7 linked regions of the Homo sapiens genome follow. The protein of the gene in region 4 interacts with the protein of the main gene of each other region in a pairwise test. Each region holds a gene or a part of one and is shown on either strand. Other genes may lie near its edges.

Region 1 (3,500 bases), on a different chromosome or scaffold from region 4:
GGACAATTCCGCTCCCAACTTTCCACACAAGCCAAATCTATGACATCTTGAAGCTGACTACTACAATGCTCACCTAATTAATTCCCTGCCTCTTGCTCCCTCCAAATCCAAATTCTTGCTGGGTGCAGTGGCTAATGCCTGTAATCCCAGCACTTTGGAAGGCCAAGGCAGGTGGATCACTTGGGGCCAGCAGTTTGAGACTAGCCTGGCCAACATGGTGAAACCCTGTCTCAAAAAAAGAAAAAAAACAAACAAACCCAAATTCTCTTTTTCAAATACCACTGTGCTTACAACTCTTCTTACTTCCTACTGTTTTCCAAATAAAGAACAAAATCCTGAAGATGGCCTTTGACCCATTTAGTCAAATATCCTTTTAAAATACTCACTGGACATACATGTCTGCAGGTGTATATACAAAAAGATGCCTAAGACACGCTGTTAAATTTTTTAAAAGAAGCATGATGAAAAATAGCATGTAGAGTACAAACCCTTTTGTGTTTGAAAAAACATGTGAAGGCGTGGGGAATAGAACAGATGTATATGAACCATATACATGAACCAGGGATTGGGGGCAGAAAAGATGATTTATTGAAACTCACCCCTTACAGCATATTGCTCAAAAATAATTTTTATCACTTCTGTGTTTATTATTATACATTTTATACATTACATATGTATACTATATTATTGTAAATTTAATAATGTCTTACTTTCATAACTTTTTAAGAATATTTTTAAAAGGTGAATCAGAAATAATACTAGTAATAAAATCTTCATGTTTACTTTTTCTCAAATTCCATCTAAATCCAAATAAACCCTATGGGATTTGATACCTCTAATCTGAGCCAAAAGTTAGAAGGCAAAAAATAATTTATGACTCTTCAGCACCTAAAGTTTTTCTAGTCACCATTGCCCTGACGACCAGTTTGAAACAGAAAAAGGGTTCAAGTTATGATCACATTTAGAAGTTCAGCCAAGATCCAACTTGGTCCACCCCAATCACATTGTATAAAATTTAAATTCATTCCTACCTTGATTTGACAATCTCTTTTTCATATATATCTTCAATAACCTGTTATAAAAATATAAAAATGTTTAATATCTCAACAACTTTTTTCAACCCTAAATTGACAGTTTTTAATGAGTGAGATTATATAAAATAAGTTGGTTTAGGAAAGCCATCAAATATTACTGCTATTGAAATAATGAGATATTTAAAATAATCCCATTATATTCCTCGAAATATGAAATTAACAGAAAGCAAAGTAGAAAAAACAAATAATAAAACAGAGCCCTAGATTCATTAAAATGATGTGCTTATAAAGATTTTTAGGGAAAATAAAAATTCACAAGATCAGGATTTTTTTTAAACTTAAAGTGTATAAATGTTATGAGACTCCATTTGAGAGTCATAACTGTGTGCCTGCAAAACCCAGAGAGAAAATAATTTAAAAGTGTGAAGACATAACAGACACAAATTCTAATTGTTACATCTCTTTATCCAAATGAATATGATAGAGCTTCAGAATTTCCATTCATTTGAGTGAGGGTGGGCAGAATGGTGTACTACTTAAGAATTCAGACTCTGGCCAGGCACGGTGGCTCACGACTGTAATCCGAGCACTTTGGGAGGCCGAAGAGGGTGGATCATGAGGTCAAGAGATCAAGACCATCCTGGCCAACATGGTGAAACCCTGTCTCTACTAAAAATACAAATATTAGCTGGGCGTGGTGGCGCACACCTGCAGTCCCAACTACTTCGGAGGCTGAGGCAGGAGAATCACTTGAACCCGGGAGGCGGAGGTTGCAGTGAGTCAAGATCGCGCCACTGCACTCCATCCAGCCTGGTGATAGAGCGAGACTCCATCTCAAAAAAAAAAAAAAAAAAAAAAGAATTCTGACTCTGGAACTGTACATCTCAAAAAAAAAAAAAAAAGAAAAAAAGAACTCAGACTCTCGAATTGGAAGACTGGTTCAAAACATCTGCCTTCACTACTGATGGCTGGAACTCTTAGGCAAGTGCCTGACCTCTCCAAGCCTCAGTTTCCTTACCCACAAAACAGATCTAATAACACAAACTACCACACAGGGTTACTGAAAATAAAATAAGACAGGGCATATAAACAATTAGTACAAATACTGGCATACAGTGAGCCTTCACTAACAGTTATCAATAGCAGCAGTAGTAGTGCTAGCATTAATAATAGTAAAAAAAAATACTACTGTAAAATTATGAAGTGCTTTAACATGCTATAATATTATTGTATGGTAACTATAATGTCTTTTTTTTTTTTTTTTGAGATGGGGTCTCACTCTGTCACCTAGGGTGGAGTGTAGCAGTGCAATCACAGCTCATTGCAACGTCTGCCTTCCAGTCTCAACTATCCTCCAGCCGCAGCCTCCCAAATAGCTGGGACCACAGGCATACACCACCATACCCACCTAATTTTTTGTATTTTTGGTAGAGATGGGGTTTCACCATGTTGCCCAGGTTGGTCTTGAACTCCTGAAGTCAAGTGACCTACCGCCTCAGCCTCCCAAAGTGCTGGGATTACAGTCATGAGCCATGGTACCTAGCCTATAATATCTTTTAATTGCTCCAAGTACATTTGTGAAATAAGTATTTGTGAGTGGTAAAGGGAGGGAGGCGATAAGGAAAACAAGTCTTGTTCAATCTAGATGAAATGCTCTGTTATTGTTTTCATCAAATTTCAAATTAAATAATAAAATAAAGATTACTGGTTGGCCGGGTGTGGTGGCTCAAGCCTGTAATCCCACCACTTTGGGAGGCCAAGGTGGGCAGATCACCTGAAGTTAGGAGTTTGAGACCAGCCTGGCCAACATGGTAAAACCCCGTCTCTACTAAAAATACAAAAATTAGCAGGGCGTGGTGGCGTGCATCTGTAATCCCAGCTACTCAGGAGGCTGAGGCAGAAGAATCGCTTGAACCCAGGAGGTGGAGGCTGCAGTGAGCCAGAATCGTGCCATTACACTCCAAACTGGGTGACAAGAGCGAGACTCCACCTCCAAAAAAAAAAAATAAATAAAAGATTACTGGCAAAAACAAATATATATTCGTAAGAATTTAAGTTCAAATAAAGTAAGAAATTTTGGGTAAAAAGTTCAGTTTTACCAACAGTGCCTAAAGCATCACCATTAAATTTATAATGGCAAAGCTTAAGAGTCTTCATTACTTGTTGAATGGTATGCAGTGTCAACATCTATTTCATTTAAAGACCTCACTCTCTTTAAGGGACAGGGTCTCATTCTGTTGCCCAGGCTGGAGTGCAGTGGCCTGATTACAGCTCACTGCAGCCTCAAGCTCCTGGGCTCAGTCAGTCATCCTCCCGCTTCAGCTTCCAGAGCAATTGATACTACATGTGTGAGCCACTGCACAAGCCAATTTTTTTAATTTTTTTGTAAAGGCGAGATCTCACTACTGTCCAGTCTAGTCTCAAACTCCTGGCTTCAGGTGATCTTCCCTCTTTGATCTCCCAAAG
Region 2 (3,500 bases), on a different chromosome or scaffold from region 4:
AAAGTGAAGGGAGTACCGTAAATTCTTTTAAACGTTTGTCAGTATTTGGGTATTGGTATGGCCATCTGGTATAGGCAACAGGTATTTGTGTAGAAATGTTTCTTCAACAAGGACGGGCAACCTCTAAACTAGGATTTCGTGGCTGGAGATATTTTGGATGTGAATGTATTAACAGCTTTGGAGAGACACATTGTTAGAGATCCAGGCTGGTGACTTGTAGAACCACCGAAAGCTCTGAGACAGAAAGGGGCTAATGAAAGTCTCTAGTTGCAGTTGGGTGTGGATGGCACACAAAGACCTTAAGTGTTTAGGTGATTTGCTGCAGGCTTCTCGGCCGACTGGAAGCAGAGCACATCTAGATTGTAGTTTCTCTGGTGCCAGGGCAGTCTTAGTTGTCCTGTTATACCTAAGAAAAGGGAGAAAAATTTCTATTCTTTAAATGTTCTGTAAAGCAGACTAATTGTGATAATTTTTAAAGTAAGCTGTTCTTAAAAGATAAGATACAGAAGCCAGTTAAATTTGTATTTTAGATAAATAATTTTTTGTTAAAATAAGCTTTTGGTAATTGAAGAATAACATACATTCAGAAACGTACAGAAATCAAGTGTAAACTCAGTGAATTGTTCACAGTTGATGCACCTGTGTAAGCAGCAACCCAGAAGCCCTCTACCAGTCACTGCCTCCCCTGAGCCAAAAGAACTACTATCCTGACTTCTGAAAGCATTGATTAGTTTGGCCTGGTTTTGTTTTTGCTTTTTTTGTTTTCGTTTTTGAGATAGGGTGTTGCTTTGGAGTGCAGTGATCATAGCTCACTGCAGCCTCATCCTCTCAGGCTCAAGCAATCCTCCCACCTCAGCCTCCTGAGTAGCTGGGACTATAGGCATACGTCACCGTGCCCGGCTAATTTTTTTTTTTTTTTTTTTTTTAAGACGCAGAGTCTCACTATGTTGCCCAGAATGATCTGAAACTCCTGGGCTCAAACAGTTTTCCTGCCTCGGCCTTGCAAGGTGCTAGGAATACAGGCGTGAACTACCGTGCCTGGCCAGTTTTGCCTGTTTTTGAACTCTCTGTCAACGGAATCACATAGTGATACACATTTGCATATCTAGTGGCATTTGCTCAGCCTAAAGTGTTTTTTTTTTCCTTCCTCTTCCCCTTACAACTATTTTTTAGTTGTTTATTTTACTTCATTAAAAAAATGAAAAGATTTGAGGTATAATTCATACACAGTAAAACAGACTCGCTTTACAGGTAGTTTCAATTGTATACTGTTGTATAATCGCCATCAAGATCTAGAACTATTTCATCACCCCAAAAAAGTAAAATAAATAAATAAATAAAATAGAAATATAATAATTTGAGCTTTATCCATATCATGTGTAGTGTGTTCATTTTCTTTTTTGACAGTTTCGCTCTGTCGCCCAAGCTGGAGTACAGTGGTACAATCTTGGCTCACTGCAACCTTGGCTCACTGCAAACCCTGCCTCCCGGGTTCAAGCGATTCTCCTGCCTCAGCCGCCCCAGTAGCTGGGATTACAGGCGCACCACCACACCCAGCTAATTTTTTGTGTTTTTAGTAGAGACAGGGTTTCCCCATGTTGGCCAGGCTGGTCTCCTGACCTCAAGTGATCTGCTCCCCTCGGCCTCCCAGAGTCCTGGAATTACAGGTGTGAGCCACTGCACCCAGCCAGTTTGTTCATTTTCATTGCTGCATTAGTGCATTGTAGGAATGTACTATTCATTCTGTTGATAGACATCTAGGCTGTTTCTGTTTCCCTGCTATTATGAGTAGTGCTTCTCTAACCATTCTCATATATGTCTTTGGTGAACGTATGTGTTCATTTCTGCTAGGTATGTATGTAGAGGTAGAACTGCTGGGTTCAGCTTTAGTAGATAGACTGCCAACAGTTTTTAAAATAGTTGTACCAATTTACACCATGCCAGCAGCATATGAAAGTTCTCACTTTTCTATATACTCACCAACACTTAATGCTGTCTTTTTAACTTTAGCCATTCTTTGAGCTGCTAGTTGTAATTTAAGAAGAATAGGCCAGGCATGGTAGCTCACGCCTGTAATCCCAGCAATTTGGGAGGCCGAGGCAGGTGGATCACTTGAGGTCAGGAGTTCGAGACCAGCGTGGCCAACGTAGTGAAACCCCATCTCAATGGCTTTTTAACTTTAGCCATTCTTTGAGCTGCCGGTTGCAATTTAAGAATACTAGGCCCGGGCGCAGTGGCTCATGCCTGTAATCCCAGCACTTTGGGAGGCCGAGGTGGGTGGATTTTTGTGTTTTTGTAAAAATACAAAAATTAGCTGGGTGTGGTGGCACACACCTGTAATCTGAGCTACTTGGGAGGCTGAAGCAGGAGAATCACTTGAACCTGGGAGGCGGAGGTTGCAGTGAGCTGAGATCTCACCACTGCACTCCAGCCAGGGCAACGGAGCGAGACTCTGTCTCAAAAAAAAAAAAGAAAATAAAAATAAATAAATTAATTAAATAAAATGGCAAGGCACAGTGGCTCACATATGTAATCCTAGCACTTTGGGAGGCCGAGGAGGGCGGATCACTTGAGGCCGGGAATTCAAGACCCACCTGGCTAACATGGCGAAACCCCAACTCTACTAAAAATACAAAAATTAGCTGGGTGTGGTAGCACCTGCCTATAGTCCCACCTACTCGGGAGGCTGAGTCAGGAGAATCATTTGAACGCAAAAGGTAGAGGTTGCAGTGAGCCAAAATTGCACCACTGCACTCCAGCCTGGGCGACAGAGCAAGATGCTGTCTCAAAAAAAAAGAAAAAACAAAAAAAAAACACCAAAAAAATAGTAATAAATTGCCAAACATTTTGCAGGAGTTTCTCACCAGCAAGTTCTTGTGTTAGTTTATTTTACCAACATCTTTTGTCCGGTTTTTCTTTAGTAAAAGTATTTATAATTCTGTATTATACTTCCATAGGTAGATCATTGTTGAAAGTCCAGAAGGTTGAGCTTCCATGATGTAATATGATATGAAATCTTGTATTGCTAGTGGCATTTGGTAGGAAAAGGGATGGGGAGTGGTTAAAGGTGAATTAAGCTGAATGCTTGTTTTCAATTTGTTTTTTTCTCGAGGCCACTGAGAAGCTAGTCTTTTTAGTTCTCGAAAATAGTGCTTTTAGTCCAGAGGCTGTGACTGATGTAACTAACAGGCCTTAGTTTTTGGTTTTCAGTGAGGTGCTGGCGGAGGAGTCCATAGTATGTCTGCAGAAAGCCCTAAATCACCTTCGGGAAATATGGGAGCTAATTGGGATTCCAGAGGACCAGCGGTTACAAAGAACTGAGGTGGTAAAGAAGCATATCAAGGTGGGTTGAATAGTACTGGTCTCTGCATTGGACCAGGGTAAGGATGTTGGTGTCTCACCCGAGATAGCATACAGAAGGGACATGTGATCATCGGCATTAGGATAGCACAGGCTCTTCCTGTTTGGTTTGGTTTGGTTTTGAAGTCCCTTCTTGAAAT
Region 3 (3,500 bases), on a different chromosome or scaffold from region 4:
CTTACCCTGAGGCAGCTGCTGTGTCCAGCTCAAGTATCAGCCAGAGCAGCTGCTGAGTTAATCCACCAAATAGAGATCCTGTAGAAGCCCAAGGAAACTGGGGCCTTTGATGAGTTCAAATTCACCACAAGGCTGAATCCAAACCTTGCTTTTTCTTAGAGAATGCCCATGGGGGAGCTACAGCACTCTTCTGATCTAACAAAAAGTAGTGGTCCTGTCCATCACTCGTAGAGGAAGCTGATGTTTGGTTTTTGCCATGACCGGTTTTTTTTGCCTGTGTACTTGGGTGAAGAGAGAAGGTAAGGTATGTGATAAAGCAGAAATTGTTCAGCACCAGAAACCACAGGCAGTAAAATCGAGGGCATGTTTCACTGTGTACATGGATGTAAGGAAAGCACCAGGAAATAGAGCATTTGCTTCTAAAAGGTTTGCAGTTCAGCTGTTGTGGGCTGAATGTAGTTTACAGATCAGCAAGTGAGCCTGAGATGCTTCTGAGTTTTAAAGGCAGCATTACTCTGACACGGGACCACCTAGTAAAGAGAGATAAGACCACCACTGAATCAAAGAGAACTCTTACCACATCCTAAATACTCAAGGTAAGCCTAGTGATGAAATGTGAAATTCTAGCACTCTAACCTTGAACTGGACAAATATGAATCTGGTAAACTGGGTTCTGAAGTGGTGAAGGTGAATCAGACCTGCAAAATATTCTCAGAGGCCGGGAATTTGCTACTATAGTGAGGTCTCTATCAACCTGCCCATATCCCATTTCTGGGATCAAAGAGTAGTACTCCATCATGAACAGGTGTCCTTCTCTATGTGAAAGGCCCTTCCTCAAACACCAAGAACTATACAGTAAGGTTTTTTGCAATACTGGATGTCAACGCCCTCCCCACACCTGCTCCACCTGCCCCACCCTCCTCTCCCTAGGCAGGCACGTGGATGTCAGCATACATGACATGGGCTCAGTGGATCACAGCCTTGAAGCATGACACTCCCTCTGCAGCCTCAGAGAAGCAATACAAGACATATATGTAGTGACAAAGCCCTAAACCCGAATTCTCAGAATGTAAACAGAACCCTTCAGACAATTATTCAGATCCACAATTAGGTCCTGGTTCCAATAAAGCATGGAGTTTTCTCTCTCACCATTCACCCCTCTGAGTCCATGGCCAATACATCCTCCCACTCCTTTTTACCACAGATAATGTCTGAAGGAGTTGGGCAGCTGAGCAGACTGTAAGGACACTCAGGACACTCTAGGGTGCACAGGTTTCCAGCTGACTATTGGACATTGTGGGCAGGTCCTGCTCACACACAGTTCCAGACACGGCAGAGACCAATGGAGACGCCACCGCCATTGCTGAGCAGATGGCTAATGAGGCAGAAAGTCTATGAAGGGAGCTTCCAGAAGAGTCAGTGTCAACCCAGGGAAAAGTCAGTGAGCCAGAAATAGCCGAGGCTTTTCAGCACCATTGACCCTGAACTGCCTTTGAGCTACAGGAACAAGGAGTTGGGTCTCAGGCCCAGCAGGGTCATTTACACAAAAGTACATGGAAGTTGGAATCTTTAAATATTATTAATTAAACTGAGAACTTTCAAAAGGGTATTAAAGGATTATGATGTCAGTCCTCAAGCAAACCTCATAACAGCAATCAAGCAAAGGCTTGGCTATGAGAACGGTGACTCGGAAATAATATAAATGGACTGCTTGATGACTTTATGGCTTAGTTCTTGGTTCTAATTCCTGATAGCTGGTAAGTGCACATTGATCCTCTGGCTGTTAATTCATTCAGGTCTCACGTGGCTGCAATCCCCCAGATATTTCTTCAGTCAGGGCATCTTTCTCTCAGGGACCTCCTCTCCCAGGAGAAACTCTGTAGAGTCTGAGGGTTCAAAGAGAACCCACCTGCTCACCTGCATAGGAACTGCCTAGAACATCATCCCACGAGGAGTCACTTGGCCACCTCCTGGGCATCTCTGGTGTAAGCAGATGAAATGCTTGTACTTAATCTATGGAAACCTGCATTTTCCTGCAGGAGTCCTTTGCCGCTCCTTTCTCTACGAGCAGTAAGTCCTCACCGCATTATGGACACTTGAAACTGGCCTCCCCTAATGACCATTCTGGAGGGTTTGCTCCTCCTGGATTACTGAATAATTGCCCATGGAGTTACTGTTCTCAGTCAAGGTTCCCCTCCATGCAGGAATAGATAATGGAGCAATTCTCCTCAGAAAGAGGTCTTGAGGCGATTGCATTGTGTGAGCTTGAGGCCTCCAGTATAATCTGAGAACAATGTTCTTTTGGGAGGACTGAGCCTCAAGATTTGGGGAGAAATTAATCTCTGGGCCTATAGAAGAGGAACATTATGGAAGAAACTATGTGAGATGTTAGTCAAGGGAAAAGAAAATATTTCCTACCCATTAAAGTAAAAATCAAGCACTGAATCTGACTCCAGATGTAGTGAAGAATAAGAAAAGCCAAAAGCGCTAGGCAGATTACTAACTCCTGTGAGAAAACAAGAAGAAAGCTTCACTGATATTATCACAAATAATTATTTTCAACATTATTTCAATGGACTTTTCATTTTGGCTTGAGCCCTACTACGTGCTCTTCATGGGGTAGTGCACTACTGTTTTCAGAAAACAGCCCCTCCGCACACAGCTTCTACTACCATGTATAAGAATTGCCACACATTTTCTAGAAATAATCAGTCTACTGCATCTTTTACCTAAAAACCACCTCATAAGATTTCTTCCCACCAAACATTTATTTTTGTCATTTTATCTGTGAAAATAAACATCCAACCCCAAAGCATGTTACTTTTAATTTTCCAAAATCATTTCCTTTTACTACCTCATGGAATTGAAGTCTCTTGGGCAGATACAATCAAAATAATAAGTCATTGTCTGATTTTTGAGAACATGTTGTTTGTGGTTCATAATCAATCACCTGATGACCCAGGAGCATGGAACTGGAGAGTGCTTTCTGGCAGCTTCTTGCCTGGGCAACACTCACACCCTACACATCATTTAAGAATGCTCATGAGTATGGAGTCACCATGAACATTCTTCCTTGTGAAGAAATTGTAAAAGATTTCTTCTGTGGACTCTTCAAGACATGCAAACATCTAACCAAGTGTTAGGGGGAAGACATGGACTTCAAACTCATCATATAAAGAAAGAGTCTCTTGAAAAAAATCTCTGTGGAGGAGCACCTGTGCTTTTCCACTCCCAGGAGTACATGCTTAGGAAGCACAGGTTTAATCAAGCCAAGACTGTCTCTGTCTAGCTGTAGCCAGCACACTCCAAGAATCCATGAATCAGAGGTTATTCTCCAGAACAGACTTAAAACTCAAGTGTGCTCCTTGGGGGTTGCTGGGAATGACACAAAAGCAGGGGATTAGTCTTTAGAAGCCCAAGGAGGACACAGGGAAGGCTGAGCAAGGGCAAGTGGCCGTTGGTAAGGAGGACTGGGGACACAGCCAGTCACTGCAGATGAA
Region 4 (3,500 bases):
GCTCTCCCTAGGTGCAGAAGAAATTGCTAGTTAGAGAGAGCTCCCTGACGCCCTAAGTAGGAGTGCGAGTATTCTACACACCCACCCAGAACACAACTCCAGTGCGTAGGCTGGAGCAAGTGCTGACGGGGAAGGCCTTGGGCCCTGATAGGGCTGCAGGAGGCAGGAGCCATGGCCGTAGCACCCAGCTGGATGCCCAGCGACAGGAGGTCTCAGCACTGGCTAACCTGAGCCTCACACACGGGGGTGTTATCTCATCATGCTTGCCCTCAGATGCATCTGCTTCCTCCTCTTGCTTCACAGTCACAGAACAGCACTTTTCTGGTCCATGATCCACAACTCTCAGTATCTTCAAATGCCAGTTCCAGCCCACCCACTGTCCTCTAGTTAGGCAGACCCATCCATGTACCACCTCGTCCCTCTGTGCCTGGCCCTGCATATACACTGGCTAACTACATGGAAGCAAGGGGGCAGCCCTCTTGCTCAGGCCTAAGTGCTCAGAAGACAGTGGAAGATGTTGGGCCTTGCATTGTGCTCCAAGTAGGTAAGACTAAGCAGAGGATACAGGATGATCCAGGGGGACTCCACTGACTGTGATGGCCACTTTATGAGTTCTGATTTGCATTCAAATTTCTGGCGTGGGTCAATGTGTGGATGAATGGTGGCAAATTAGCCAAGATTGAGAACACAGGAAGACAGGATTAGAGAAGCGGGAGAATCCATTTTAGGCAAACTTAAGCTGCCCATGAGACTTGCAGGCAGAAATATCTGAAGCTCAGGACTAGAAAGAGACCATGAAGATCAACAGCATAACAGAGGCTGCATAAAACTAGAGATAGACTGCTACTGTTTCAGCTGAGAGAAGAGAGAGAAACCATGAGCCAAGAAAGAAATACAGAAGAATGACAACATTCACAAAGTACTCAGAGGAGGGGACGCCCAGGAAGCAACTGTCAGAGACTATGCTGAGAATCAGGGGGAAGTGCCCCAGCAGGTTCCCGTAGGACTGGAGAACCCTGAACCCATGTACAGGTTGAAGGAAGGGACACTACCCTATTCTGTCTCCCCTCCATTAGCACAGGAATAGGAAGACCACGACCCTTGTGGCAAACTCTTCAGTGAAGGAGGGGGACTGATCAGGAGGGGTGAAGAGGGGCACCTCAGCTTCCTCCCTGTCAGTTGATAATCACAAATCCATACCTGAGCAGAGCTGAGACACTCATCACATAGAACACAACATGGACAAGAGACCCAAAGTTTCGCCCTTGAATTCACTCGATATTGACTTTACCAAAGTACTAAGAACTCAATATTGACTTTACCAAAGTACTAAGAATTCATTATTCATTCCCTCCACTTTGATATACATATTGGCAAATTTCCATTAAAACTTAAAAAAAAAAGTCTCCTGTGGACAGCGCCGGCCTGTGCTCTGGAAGCAGGAGCTTCATTCTCACCTCCTGGGTCTCTGCTTTGGGAGGCTCTGACCCTTCTTCCTCTTTATTCTCTTCAAGCGTCTTCCCAGAAAACTTCTTCAACCAGTCATCATCTGACCAAACTGAAAGGAAAGAATCAAACAAATGTTCATTCAAGCTGTCAGCTTGAACTGAAAAGTAGCTGCTTTGGTCAGCAAAGTGGAAGATGCTATGTGGCCTGTATGCCAGACAATTCCCCACTGAGAACTCCCAGGGGTAAGGAAAGTTCCCATCCAGAATGTAGGCCCTGAAGTCCAGCTCTCAGTAGGGCTAAGGAAAATAGCTATGCCGAAAGCAAAGGTGTAGCCTTTGCTGATTTCAGCCCTTGATGGAGACCCCAGGAATGGAATATCAAGAAAACTGGGAAAGATGAGCTCAGGCAGGAATTTCTCTCATAACAGAAACAATCACTTTGGCTTTGCTGAGAAGCTCAAACTCACTTGTTTCTCTAAAAAGGTGGTGCATGCCCTTCCCAATGTGAACCATCATCTACTCCTATCTACCAGGAAGCAGCATTTAGCATCTACTTCCAAGTAAATAGAGACAAAAAATGCAACTAAGGCCAAACTGCAGAACATCACAGGGAATCTGGAAGTTGCTCCTACTCACCTGGCCTGGAAGAGCCTTCCTTAATTCTCATTGGTTTGGCCAAATTGACACGAATTGTACGTCCAAAAAGCTCAGATTCATTCTGAAAAGATTGAAAATCCAGCTGCTTAAACTCTCTTAGGTTAAAAGAGGGCCAGCCAGCTTTCCATATACTTCTGAGACACACTCATGATTTGTCCTCCCTTAATCCCTGGGCCTCTACCAGTAAGCTATGCAGCCACCCCAAAGCCACCTGTGGGTTTCAGGGAACTCACACCCCTTTCTTTCATAGCAGCACACAAAGACCTGTATTACCAAAAGTAACTCTGGGTTCAGAACACTCCAAAATTACAAAAATAAATGCAGTTTCCCAGTATTTGAGTTCACCTTCAAAAGTCAAGATAAGCTTTGAAATGAAAGAAAAATGATCTCTGACAGCTGATGAATATGTTTGGTGAATGGATAACAGAACAACAAATAAAACAACATCTCATTATCCAAAGATAATCGGTACCAGGAAAGGTCATTTAAGGTGACTCCACTTGAAGTGGTGATGAAGATTTCGTGGTAAAATTGAAAAATTTTAAAAGGCTGACTGGGAAATTACTGTGATGAAACTAAAAATAATAAAAACAAGTTTCTTACCATTAATATTCAGGACTAACTATGCACTAATCGGTAGAAAGAAATGTAACTTGGTAGAAAGAAATGTAACAGGTAGCCCAGGTAGCCCTGTTGGCTTGAGCCTGTAATTCCAGCTACTTGAGAAGCTGAGAAGTCTTGAACTCATGAGTTCAAGATTGTTAAAAAAAAAAAAAAAAAAAAAAAGAAAGAAAGAAAAGTAACAGGCACTGAAGTATTATTTTTCCAACAAAATTCTATCAACAGTATGGTATCTTTGCACTTCTTATCAGACATGAAAACTAAAAGGATCTCAAGGAAGGCACAAATACTAAAGAGCATCATCATTTTTCCCAAGGACCTTTCCAGAATATCCAAATCATTTGTATCAGTGATTTGCACCTGCCATAATTAAATTTCTCTTCTCAATTGTAAATTGGTCTAACACTTCATGAAATCCTGCTATTTTGCAAAATATGCAGTTACACCGTGCAATCAATTTGCACTGTGTCTGCAAATTATCCTAAACATGGGAGAGCCAGTGAGAGACTGGTCAACAAGGATGATGAGGACTTACATTATTCTGAAATGGCGAAGGAGTCTGAGTAAGAACTAATTTTATAAGTGATCAATTCACAGTGAATATTTTCATGTGAGAATTTTTACCTCCCCATGCAACCTTGTAACTTTGGAAGTCCAGAACACTGATATATGAATAAGGAGCCTCTGTACCACCAAAAAGCAACTTTAGTTAGAATTAAGATTCCCAGCCATACCATGTTGTCGATAGCTGCTGCAGCATCCTGCCAAGGAAAG
Region 5 (3,500 bases), on a different chromosome or scaffold from region 4:
GAGAAGAGATATGAAGCTGTCACTCCCCAGCTTGAAACCCTTTGATGGGGTGTGTGTGAAAAACACGGCGGCTCATGATCTGATCTCTGTGGTCTCCTTGCCACTCCCCACCTCCTGCCACCCCATCCACTTACCCACCCCCTGCACACACAGTCTCCTGCCTCCGTGACCCCTATGCAGGACTCTTCCCTCTGCTGCACTGACTGCCCTCTCCACCTTCCTCCGTCTGGCTTGGCAAACTTCTAATTAGCCTTCAAGCTTCAGTCAAGCGTCTGCTCCCCTCTAAAACCTCCCAGGAACAGCAGACACCTGCACTTGACAAATTTTTGGCTTCCTACTATGTGCAGGACACCCAATCTTCTCACTATGTTGCCCAGGCTGGACTTGAACTCCTGGCCTCAAGTGATCCTCCTGCTTCAGCCTCCCAAAGTGCTAGGATTGCAGGTGTGAGCCACTTCACCTGGCCAGGACACTGAACTGTGCTCAACAATTACACGTACTTTTTACATGAAATCTTTCCATACTGTCTCTCTGACTGGATTCTGAGGTTCTCAAAAGAGTGAACTGTGCCTTTATCTTTACATCCTGGCACCAAGTAAGGTGCCTGGCACCCATGAGTGCTCTCTATCTCTCCCACTCTCGCTGATAAAGGAGCCCAAACTGGGCCACTGACTTGCTTTCCAGGCTGGAGTGCAGTGGTGCAATCACAGCTCACTGCAAGCTCGAACTCCTGGGCTCAAGCAATCCACACCCGGCTAATTCTTTAAATTTTTTGCAGAGGCTGGGGTCTCACTATGTTGCTCAGGCTAGTCTTGAACTCTTGGGGTCAAGAGATCCCATCTCGGCCTCCCAACGTGGTAGGATTACAGGCTTGAGCCACCAAGCAGGCCTTGCTTCTTTAATACAAACCCCAAAGACTCCCAAGGTCCTCACTGCCCTGAGGTTAAAACTGCCCTGACTGTAAGGATAAAGACAGACAGAGGCCGGGCGTGGTGGCTCATGCCTGTAATCCCAGGACCTTGGGAGGCCGAGGTGGGCGGATCACCTGAGGTCAGGAGTTTGAGACCAGCCTGGCCAACATGGTGAAACCCCACTTCATTAAAAATACAAAAATTAGCCGGGCATGGTGGCGCATACCTGTGGTCCCAGCTACTCAAGAGGCTGAGGCAGGAGAATCATTTTAACCCAGAAGGCAGAGGTTGTAGTGAGCAGAGATCGCGCCCCTGCACTCCAGCCTGGGTGACAGAGAAGACGCCATCTCAAAAAAAAAAAAAAAAAAAAAGGCAGAGCAGCTGCTTGCCCTGGCTGAGCCTCAGAAGGATGCGGCCTTGGAGCACTTGCCAGCAGGCCCGGGGATGGTGGGTACTCCTGGTCCTGCCTCACATTGCCTGGTCCTGGCTGTCCTCAGTAACAAGTGACTCCCTGGCTCGAATGAACAAGTGCTTCCCTCTGGGCCTCAGGCTCCTCTTCTGTAGGCTGAGGGTGTTGGATCAGATCACCAATTTTCAAACACTTTTGGACTGCAGCAACTCTCTTTTTATCCCCAAAAGAAATTATACGTGGAAGGGTCACAGGCAAATAAAATTGAGGCTACTCTGACTGGAGGTCAGGTGTGGGGCCCACCAAGCCTCAACCTCTGGTCCCCCCAACCCCATGGCAGCATTCTAAGGGGTTCACTGACATGTCTCCCTGGAGGGAGCACCCAGTTTGAAAACCGACGAGCTGGGTGCTTCCTCGAACCCTTTGTGATCAGAACACTCATTTTGTGCACTCCCTGCCACCTTCCCTTTGGCCCCAGGGCCTGAATCGGAGAGACCTGTGGTGGTAGACCCCTGTGAAAGGAACTGTCCCAGAGTGGGAGCAAACCCAGACCTCATTCTCCCAGGCTCATTAGTACAACACTCTTGCAGAAGGCCCTGTCCCCAGAGCCCTTGATCTTCCCTGAGCCCAATCCCCAAAGTAGCAGTCTCTTCAGAGCCAGCCTGGTGACGTCAGGACATGTCAACCCTAGAGGAGGGACTGGCAGCCACGAGGGTGGGGGTGACCTCAGACAGCCAGGACAGGAGCAGGAAGGGCTGGGAGGGAGGAGAGGCCCGGCGGGTCCAGCCGGGAGCCCGCGCCCATACCTGGCATGCTGGAAGTACTCCTTGTGATGGTTGCGGTAGAAGACGGAGAAGCGGAGCATGCGGCCTGCGATCTGCTCAGCTTTCTCCTGAAGCTGAGCCAGGTGCTCCTTGGCATAATCTGCAAGATCCCAGATGCGGTAGGTGAGCCGAGGGCCAGCTGAGGAGCACAAACACCTCCTGTCCCCACCCCACCCCACACTGTGTGTGCCGGCCAACCTCTGTCCGCCAGAGCAGCAGGGGAGACTAGACAGTCGCAGAACCTTAAACTCAGATGGGAACAGGCCAGCTGGCCTCTGCTGGAAACACAGAGCGCTGCATACTGTCTGTCGTCATCACCTCTGCAACCACATTGCCAGAGGCTCCGGGCTCTCCGGGTCAGAAAAAGGCAGAGGGCTGCCCAGTTATCCTGCCAGGGTCCTCAGGGGCTGTGATCCCAGGCCATCCTCATGTGAAAAGAGGACCCCTGGGAAAAAGGAAGACTTGAGACGGGAGGGCTTGAGGTCCTTTTGGGAAAGTCTCTCAAATACAGTAGATAGGAGGCTGCCCACACCACCCCCATGGAAGCCAGCTGTAATTACAGGTGACGGCTCGTGAGGGTCTAGGGAGAACTGAGCCCAGGCAATGTTTAGGCAGTCCTGGGTCTGGAGCAATGGCTCTCAGCTTGAGCATCTCAGGAGAAACAGGGAAGGCTGGAAACAGGATAGCAACATTGAACCCTGGGGCCCCAGCAAGGCTGCTGCTGGCACATACAGCTCCTTGGTACAAATTAGAAGATGCCCTTCCCTCTTTGTGGCTGCATCCCTGGCCAGGGTGCTTGGTTTGGAGAGAGGAGTGTGGACTGGATTGCAGCCAGATCTCCAATTTGAATTAAATGCCCACTGCACATGGAGGTCTCAGGGGTAAACCAAGAAGCTTTCCCCACCAGGAGCAAGAGGCCTCCAGAGAGTGGGGTTCTGCAGCAGAGCTAAGAAAAAACACCACTCAACCAGCAGCAGTGGTTCACGCCTGTGATCCCAGCACTTTGGGATCACTTGAGCCCAGGAGTTTGAGACTAGCCTGACCAACATGGAAAAACTCCATCTCTACAAAAAAATATCAAAAATTAGCCAGGAATGGTGGCATGTGCCTGTAGTTCCAGCTACTCAGGAGGCCAGGAAGCTGAGGAGGGAGGATGGCTTGGGCTCGTGGGGAGGAGGTTGCTGAGGCTGCAGTGAGCCATGATCATGCCACTGCATTCCAACCTGGGCAACAGAGCAAGACCCTGTCTCAAAAAATAAAAATGAAAAAGGCCAGGGATGGTGGCTTATGCCTGTAATCGCAGCACTTTGGGAGGCCAAGGCAGGCAGATCACCTGAGGTCAGGAGTTCAAGATCA
Region 6 (3,500 bases), on a different chromosome or scaffold from region 4:
TGCACTGAAATACAGTATTTGCTCAATACTGTAAAGCTTATAAAGCTCTCCCATAAATGTTTTTATCTTAATAAACAATGAAGGCCGGGCAAGGTGGCTCACACCTGTAATCCCAGCACTTTGGGAGGCTGAGGCAGGCAGATGATTTGTGGTCAGGAGTTCGAGATCAGCCTGGCCAACGTGGCAAAATCCCATCTCTACCAAAAATAAAGAATAAAAAAATTAGCCGAGCGTGGTGGTGTGCACCTGTAATCCCAGCTACTGGGGAGGCTGAGGCAGGAGAATTGCTTGAACCTCGGAGGTAGATGTTGCAATGAACCAAGATTGCGCCACTGCACTCCAGCCTGGGTGACACAGCAAGACTCTGTCTCAGAAAACAAAACAAAACAGGCTGGGCGCAATGGCTCACGCCTGTAATCCCAGCACTTTGGGAGGCCGAGGCGGGCGGATCACGAGGTCAGGAGATCAAGACCATCCTGGCTAACATGGTGAAACCCTGTCTCTACAAAAAATGCAAAAAATTAGCCGGGCGTGGTGGCAGGTGCCTGTAGTCCCAGCTACTCGGGAGGCTGAGGCAGGAGAATGGCGTGAACCTGGGAGGCGGAGCTTGCAGTGAGCAGAGATCGCGCCACTGCACTCCAGCCTGGGTGACTGAGTGAGACTCTGTCTCAAAAAAATAAATAAATAAATAAAAATAACAACACAGCATGCTTCTCAAAAATCATAAAATTTGAAAATATACTAATATCCTAATTTGGTCCTGATTAATCAATTATTCTTAATTACCTAATCAAGGAGAAGTCAGAACAAATGCACAAAAGAAAGAAAAGAGAAATAACCACACAGAGAGGGAATGAAAAGATCCATAAGCACATCTGTCAACTTCATGCACATAAACCTAAGAACTTGGCTGAAAGAGATAATTTTCTAGGAAAATATAATTTTATTTATTCTTTTTTTTTTGAGATGGAGTCTCACTCTGTTGCCCAGGCTGGAGTGCAGTGGGGTGATCTTGGCTCACTGCAACCTCCGCCTCCCAGGTTCAAGAGATTCTTCTGCCTCAGCCTCCTGAGTAGCTGGGATTACAGGCGCGCGCCACCACACCGGGCTAATTTTCGTATTTTTAGTAGAGATGCGGTTTCACCATGTTGGCCAGGCTGGTCTCAAATTCCTGACCTTGTGTTCCACCTGCCTCAGCCTCCCAAAGTGCTGGGATTACAGGCGTGAGCCACTGCACTTGGTATATTCTTTTTATTTTTTTGAGATGGAGTCTCACTCTGTCACTCAGGCTGGAGTGCAGTGGTGTGATCTTGGCTCACTACAACCTCTGCTTCCCAGGTTCCAGCGATTTTCCTGCCTCAGCCTCCCGAGTAGCTGGGATTACAGGCACGTGCTACCACGCCCAGCTAATTTTTTGTATTTCTAGTAGAGACGGGGTTTCACAATGTTAGCCAGGATGGTCTCGATCTCCTGACCTCGTGATCCCTCCATCTCGGCCTTCCAAAGTGCTGGGATTACAGGCGTGAGCCACCGCATCCAGTCTATTTTTTATTTAAATTGTCTAAATGTACTTATTTATAAAACTGACTCCAGAAGACAGGGAAAATCTTAATACTTCAATAATCATAAAATAACTGGTGAAATTTATTAAAGAGCTATCCTCTTCAAAAAAGCGTCCCAACTAGATTCATAGGATAATTGTATCAAAACATTAAAGAACAAATAATTCCAATACTATTTACATCACTCCAGAGGATTAAAAGAAAAAAAACTTTCCAACTTACTTCCACGAGGCAAGTAAGTATGTTACCAAAAAACCTAGAAAGTGATCAATAAAGAAAGTAAAGACCAGCCTTACTTACATCAGCATAATAATCCTTTTTCTTTTTTTGAGACAGGGTCTCGCTCTGTCACCCAGGCTGGAGTACAGTGGTACAATCATAGCTCACTGCAGCCTCGAACTCCTGGACTCGAGGGATCCTCCTGTCTCGGCTTCCCGAGTAGCTGGGACTACAGGCACGCACAACCATCCCTGGCTAATATTTGTATTTTTTGTAGAGATGGGATCTCCTCATGTTGCCCAGGCTGGTCTCAAACTGCTGGGAACAAGCATTCCTCCTACCTTGGCCTCCCAAAGTGCTGGGATTACAGGTATGAGCTACCACACCTGGCCTAACATCAAACTCTTTAACAAGAATACCAGCAAAAAGAATCCTGCAAACATTAAAGTGGTAATAACATAACACAACCAAGCTCCCTGCATTTCATGACTGTGAGATGGTTTCATTTCATACAATCTACTCATATAATCATTTTATTACTAGAGCTAAAGAGAAAACCATGATCGTCTGCACATATGTTGAACGGGCATATGATAAAATACAACATACATTCTTGATTTTAGAGGCTCTTAATAAAAAGTAATAGATATATAAGGAAATCCCCATCTCAACCCAAAGCCAGCATTAGGTTCAGTGGGATAACGTCAGAAGTATTCCTTCTAAAGACAGGAACAAATTGATCTTACCAGTTAGGATAGGCTAACATGCTGAAGTAACAACCCTTAAAACAACAAAGGTAGGCCAGGTATGGTGGCCTGTGCCTGTAATCCCAGCACTATGGGAGGCCAAGGAGGATCACTTGAGGCCCAGGGGTTCAAGGCCAGCCCTCGCAACATAGCGAGACCCCAGCTCTACAAAAAGAAAAAAAAAAATGAGCGGGGTATGGTGCCATATACCTGTAGTCCCAGCTACTCAGGATGCTGAGCCCAGGAGCTTGCGGCTGCAGTGAGCTATGATCAAGCCACTGCACTCCATCCTGGGCAATAGAGCAAGAGACACTGTCTCAAAACAAACCAAAAACCACAAAGGTATATTTCTCACTCAAACTATATGTCTGCAGAGGGGTAGGCTGGGGCCCTGCTCCCTGGCCTCCTCACTCCAGGACCCCAACTGATGGAGCCTCCACCATCAGGAACACCGCTCGTCTCCATGGCAGGAAGGAAAAGAACCAATTCCACACTGGTTCTTGAAGATTTCCACCCAGAAATGACACACACGACAACATTCCCATTTCACTGGCCAAGTGAGTCACCAGAGCCAACTGAATTTCAAGTGAACAGGGAGTACAATTCTATTACATGCCCAGAAGACAAACACATAGAAATGCTCATGAATAGCACACCTACGACTACCATTTACTTGGAAATTAACCCATAACCCAGTATCGGACTTAATGAAAAACCACAGAAGCAATTCCATTAAAGCCAGGCACGTGGCAATGACATCTCCAAGCACAATTCTTAACACTGTTCTGGACACATAAAGCAACACAGTCAGGCAAAGGAAGGAATGTGGAGGTAACATGATCACACTGCACAGATGCCATGATTATAGACACGAGAAACAAATCAAGAAGATCAACTGGAAACTACTATAAGTAGTAAAAGGATAAAAGAACATGGCTAAGGACAAAATCATTACAGAGCAATCAACAGCTTT
Region 7 (3,500 bases), on a different chromosome or scaffold from region 4:
CAATTGTAGTTTGGTTACTTCAAGAGAACAGCAAAGGACAATATATGCTTTATGATGTTTACAATGCAATATGAATATACTACATTACTTATTAAATATTCTTGTCAAAATATTTAACTTATATCCAATCAAGCCGTTAGACCTAAATTCCTATTTATAAAACATACAGGGATAGAGAAACAAGTTATATAACACTACTAGGAACCAGTCAATACAGAATATGAGACAATTTACAAACTAATTGGCCTAATCTGTTAAATGGTCACCGTCATGAAAATGAAGAGATACACTCTAGAAAAGAGACATAATAACCGCATAACGATCAAAAGAAATTTGAAACGAATTCTGACTAAAACAAAAAATAGGTGTTAAAGGCATTTTTCTGTATATTTTGGAAAATGTGATTAATGACTAGATATTAGGTGATATAATGTTAATTTTCTGAAGTGCAATAATGTCGATGTGGTTATATAGAAGAAAATCCTCATTTTAAGGAGATATGTGATACAGCGTTTATGGATAAAATGTCATGATATACATAATTTCCAAATGTTTCAGTCAAATAAATATATACATAAACTATATGTGTGTATATATGTGTATTTTACATATATATGTAAAACTGTGCATATGCACACATACAACTAGACAAAGCATATAAGGCAATATGTTAAAAATTTCAGAATTTAGATGATGGGTATATAGATGAACATAGTATTCCTTCAAAATTTTTCTATTTTTGAAAAAATTCCATGAAACAGTTAAAATTTTTTTTTTTTTTTAAAGCATAGAGAATACAAATGGTTAGCTAATAAAGTTGTAGTGGAAAAATGCAATACAGAGCAAAACCAACAAGGACACAAAATTGTTCCAGTTTAGCACATACTGTGTGATTGTGGATCTTCACATCCTCCTCATACTTAGAGCAGGCAACAGCCCGCTCCTGTCCTTTGATGACTGTCCCATGTCTTGAGTACTCCACATAGTCTTCAGTCTGGGCTAAAAGCAATTCAGCTGGAGGGGCATCCAAATGTTCTTGGCCACCATACTAAAAGGACATTGGACATTATTCAATACATTTTACAACCTGATTTGCATTTAAATTTCCAGAAAACATTTATTTCTAATCAGAAAGAAAGGGAACATTCTTTACTGGGTTTTGTTATAGAAAGCACAGTAGGAAAAAAAAAGCCACAAATTTTTTCTGAGGCAAATAGAAGATGTCTCAGTTGCTATTCATCTGTTGAGTACAGTAAGTTACAAGATGGCCATAAATTCCTCTTATCTTTCTATACATGCCCTTTTGCCACAGGGCTTTGCTTTTCTTCCCATCAAGAGACGAAGTCTTTCTCTGTCCCTTGAATCTGGGCCTGACCATGTTATTTGCTTTGACCAATGAAAGTTGGCAAATGTGATGCAAGCAAAGGCACTTATGTACCACAGCACACTTTTTGCTGCCACTCTCTAGAACTCTGAGAATGCCATTTTAAAAAGCTGTGCTACCCTACTAGAGGATGAAAGACCACATGGGGTGGAGATGAGCTGTCCCAGAAGAGGTCCCCTTAGGACAATTAGCCTGTTAACTGCTAAACACAAGAGTGAGGCCATCTTAGTTCATCATCTAACCTCAGCTGAGCAAGCCCAGACCAGGAGACTTGGCCAACTGTGAGAAACAATAAATGTTTATTTTAAGCTATTAAGATTTGAGGTAGCTTGTTTTGCTGCAAAAGCTCATACAAAATTACCATCTGACTAAGAGAAAGGAAGAAAAGGACTATTCTTCATGGATTAAGAGGGCTCTCTTTGCATTATTTTCCAAATGTAAAACTAACGCTTATTAACTAGTAACTTCTCTTTAACAGAAGTTCTTCTTTAGCATTTTGGTCAAAATTACCTTTTCCAGGATGCTTTCTTTCTGCTGTTCTTTGAAATCTTCTTTTTTGACTTTGAAGGACTTATACAACAGCTCTAGCTTTGTAGGATCTGCCTGTAGATGCACTTCAGATCCCTTGTCATAGGCTTCCCATGCAAACACTAGAGTAATTCAAAACATCTTAGTGAGTTGGCAGCTGCATTACTGTATGCTTCTTGAAAACAAGCTTTAAACAATCCCAAACGTCTTATGAGCTGATATAAAATGGCTTGACATAGAGGAAACACTTACACTGTGTCTGAGCCATTGAAATGGTATCTCCTGTGTACCTAACAAAGTTATCTCCAGCATAACTCACTCTGTAAATACAAATAAAGAAAATGTTTCAGAGATTGATTTAAGGAAAATTAATTCGTAAAACTGAATCTGAATTAAAATGAACACCATCTATGGTCAGGTCAGAAAACAATTAACTTTCTCTCATCTTAAAATCTGTACATTTAACTTGATACTTACTCATCTGGATTCTTTCCTGCATTGGCATAAGGATTCTCTCTCATTGCTCTAGTTTTTGGATCATAGTAGGCAGAATTTGGATCTAAATTCCTCAAATACTAGAAGAAAAAAATATTTAAAGAATTAATGTTTACTCACAGCAAAAAGATTTCAGCAGACTAGTTGGAGGAGTTGAACATGATCAATTAAATAAATGTGTGTATACATTTCTGGGGTTCAGGTGAAGAGAAAAAACAGAATGAAACCTTATCTTAGAATGACTCTGACTATATTATCCATATGCTACCCAGAGTCGATAAAATTTATGCTGGGAAGACAAGTATTTTTCAAATATGTATGTTAAGCTGACAAGACTTACTTTTGCAATATCTTCTCGAATCCTGAGATTCCGGACAGTAATTCGTCTCTTGGAGTCAAAATTCTGTCCAGGCATGTCAATATCATCTGCATATTTATCTTCATCCTCATCTTCACTATTATGATCTTTTTCCTAAAAGAGGGAGAGGAAGGAAAAGTAAGAAGAAAAGAAAGCAGCATGTAGTTCTTTTTTTTCCCCTTTCCCTTTAACCAAACCCTTATTTACTTGTGTTCTTTAAAAGCTATTATTAGTGTTATTTATTATTAGCCATCAGAAATTTAAAAATTTAACATATACTCAGAGACAGCAAATATGTATTACCATCTGAGAATTTGGTTCCTCTTCTCCCCACTGGTGTTTTGGAGAATTCTGCATCATGAAAGAAGAAAAATCATTCATAATCTCATTCCACTTAATCCAATTAACTTTATTATTAAGATAATAAAGTATTATTATCTTATTATAAATAATATATTTATATAATAAAATATATTTTATTATATATTATATTTATATTATATATAATAAATATTTATTATATAATATATAATATGTAACTTATAAATAAGTATTAAGATAATAAAACTTAATTCTAACTGAACAAACTCTCACACTTCTCAGTTATAATGAGCGCAAAAATTCTGAATACAAGAGTGCCATTGTAAATAATTTTATTACACTGTCTATAAAGCCAGCAAATTTCAAGAGAATTTTAATTAAGATTATAACCACAAAATGGTAACAGAAAGATTA

Evidence for each region.
Region 1: the proteins of PPIE (region 4) and AQR interact in binary tests that used the Homo sapiens proteins (3 or more experiments, as listed by UniProt).
Region 2: the proteins of PPIE (region 4) and PRC1 interact in a two-hybrid assay, tested with the Homo sapiens proteins (one large-scale study listed by BioGRID).
Region 3: the proteins of PPIE (region 4) and TRIM55 interact in a two-hybrid assay, tested with the Homo sapiens proteins (one large-scale study listed by BioGRID and IntAct).
Region 5: the proteins of PPIE (region 4) and PHYHIP interact in a two-hybrid assay, tested with the Homo sapiens proteins (one large-scale study listed by BioGRID and IntAct).
Region 6: the proteins of PPIE (region 4) and GTSE1 interact in a two-hybrid assay, tested with the Homo sapiens proteins (one large-scale study listed by BioGRID).
Region 7: the proteins of PPIE (region 4) and SLU7 interact in a two-hybrid assay, tested with the Homo sapiens proteins (one large-scale study listed by BioGRID).

The regions. Positions count from the first base shown.
Region 1 is NC_000015.10:34,959,743-34,963,242, forward strand, and holds part of AQR (RNA helicase aquarius), read right to left. Parts: intron 1,073-3,500; coding exon 1,032-1,072; intron 1-1,031.
Region 2 is NC_000015.10:90,984,536-90,988,035, reverse strand, and holds part of PRC1 (protein regulator of cytokinesis 1), read left to right. Parts: exon of another isoform or gene 1-406; intron 407-3,210; coding exon 3,211-3,343; intron 3,344-3,500. UniProt on the Homo sapiens protein: Key regulator of cytokinesis that cross-links antiparrallel microtubules at an average distance of 35 nM. Essential for controlling the spatiotemporal formation of the midzone and successful cytokinesis.
Region 3 is NC_000008.11:66,154,629-66,158,128, reverse strand, and holds part of TRIM55 (tripartite motif-containing protein 55), read right to left. Parts: intron 2,507-3,500; coding exon of another isoform or gene 2,419-2,506; intron 1-2,418. UniProt on the Homo sapiens protein: E3 ubiquitin ligase that plays an important role in regulating cardiac development and contractility, muscle growth, metabolism, and fiber-type differentiation.
Region 4 is NC_000001.11:39,741,882-39,745,381, reverse strand, and holds part of PPIE (peptidyl-prolyl cis-trans isomerase E), read right to left. Parts: intron 3,488-3,500; coding exon 3,461-3,487; intron 3,455-3,460; exon of another isoform or gene 3,351-3,454; intron 2,167-3,350; coding exon 2,085-2,166; intron 1,559-2,084; coding exon 1,458-1,558; intron 8-1,457; coding exon 1-7. UniProt on the Homo sapiens protein: Involved in pre-mRNA splicing as component of the spliceosome. Combines RNA-binding and PPIase activities.
Region 5 is NC_000008.11:22,222,100-22,225,599, forward strand, and holds part of PHYHIP (phytanoyl-CoA hydroxylase-interacting protein), read right to left. Parts: intron 3,118-3,500; exon of another isoform or gene 2,343-3,117; intron 2,245-2,342; coding exon 2,127-2,244; intron 1-2,126. UniProt on the Homo sapiens protein: Its interaction with PHYH suggests a role in the development of the central system.
Region 6 is NC_000022.11:46,303,370-46,306,869, reverse strand, and holds part of GTSE1 (G2 and S phase-expressed protein 1), read right to left. Parts: intron 1-3,500. UniProt on the Homo sapiens protein: May be involved in p53-induced cell cycle arrest in G2/M phase by interfering with microtubule rearrangements that are required to enter mitosis. Overexpression delays G2/M phase progression.
Region 7 is NC_000005.10:160,405,582-160,409,081, forward strand, and holds part of SLU7 (pre-mRNA-splicing factor SLU7), read right to left. Parts: intron 3,117-3,500; coding exon 3,069-3,116; intron 2,880-3,068; coding exon 2,748-2,879; intron 2,488-2,747; coding exon 2,390-2,487; intron 2,233-2,389; coding exon 2,165-2,232; intron 2,035-2,164; coding exon 1,895-2,034; intron 1,049-1,894; coding exon 887-1,048; intron 1-886. UniProt on the Homo sapiens protein: Required for pre-mRNA splicing as component of the spliceosome. Participates in the second catalytic step of pre-mRNA splicing, when the free hydroxyl group of exon I attacks the 3'-splice site to generate spliced mRNA and the excised lariat intron.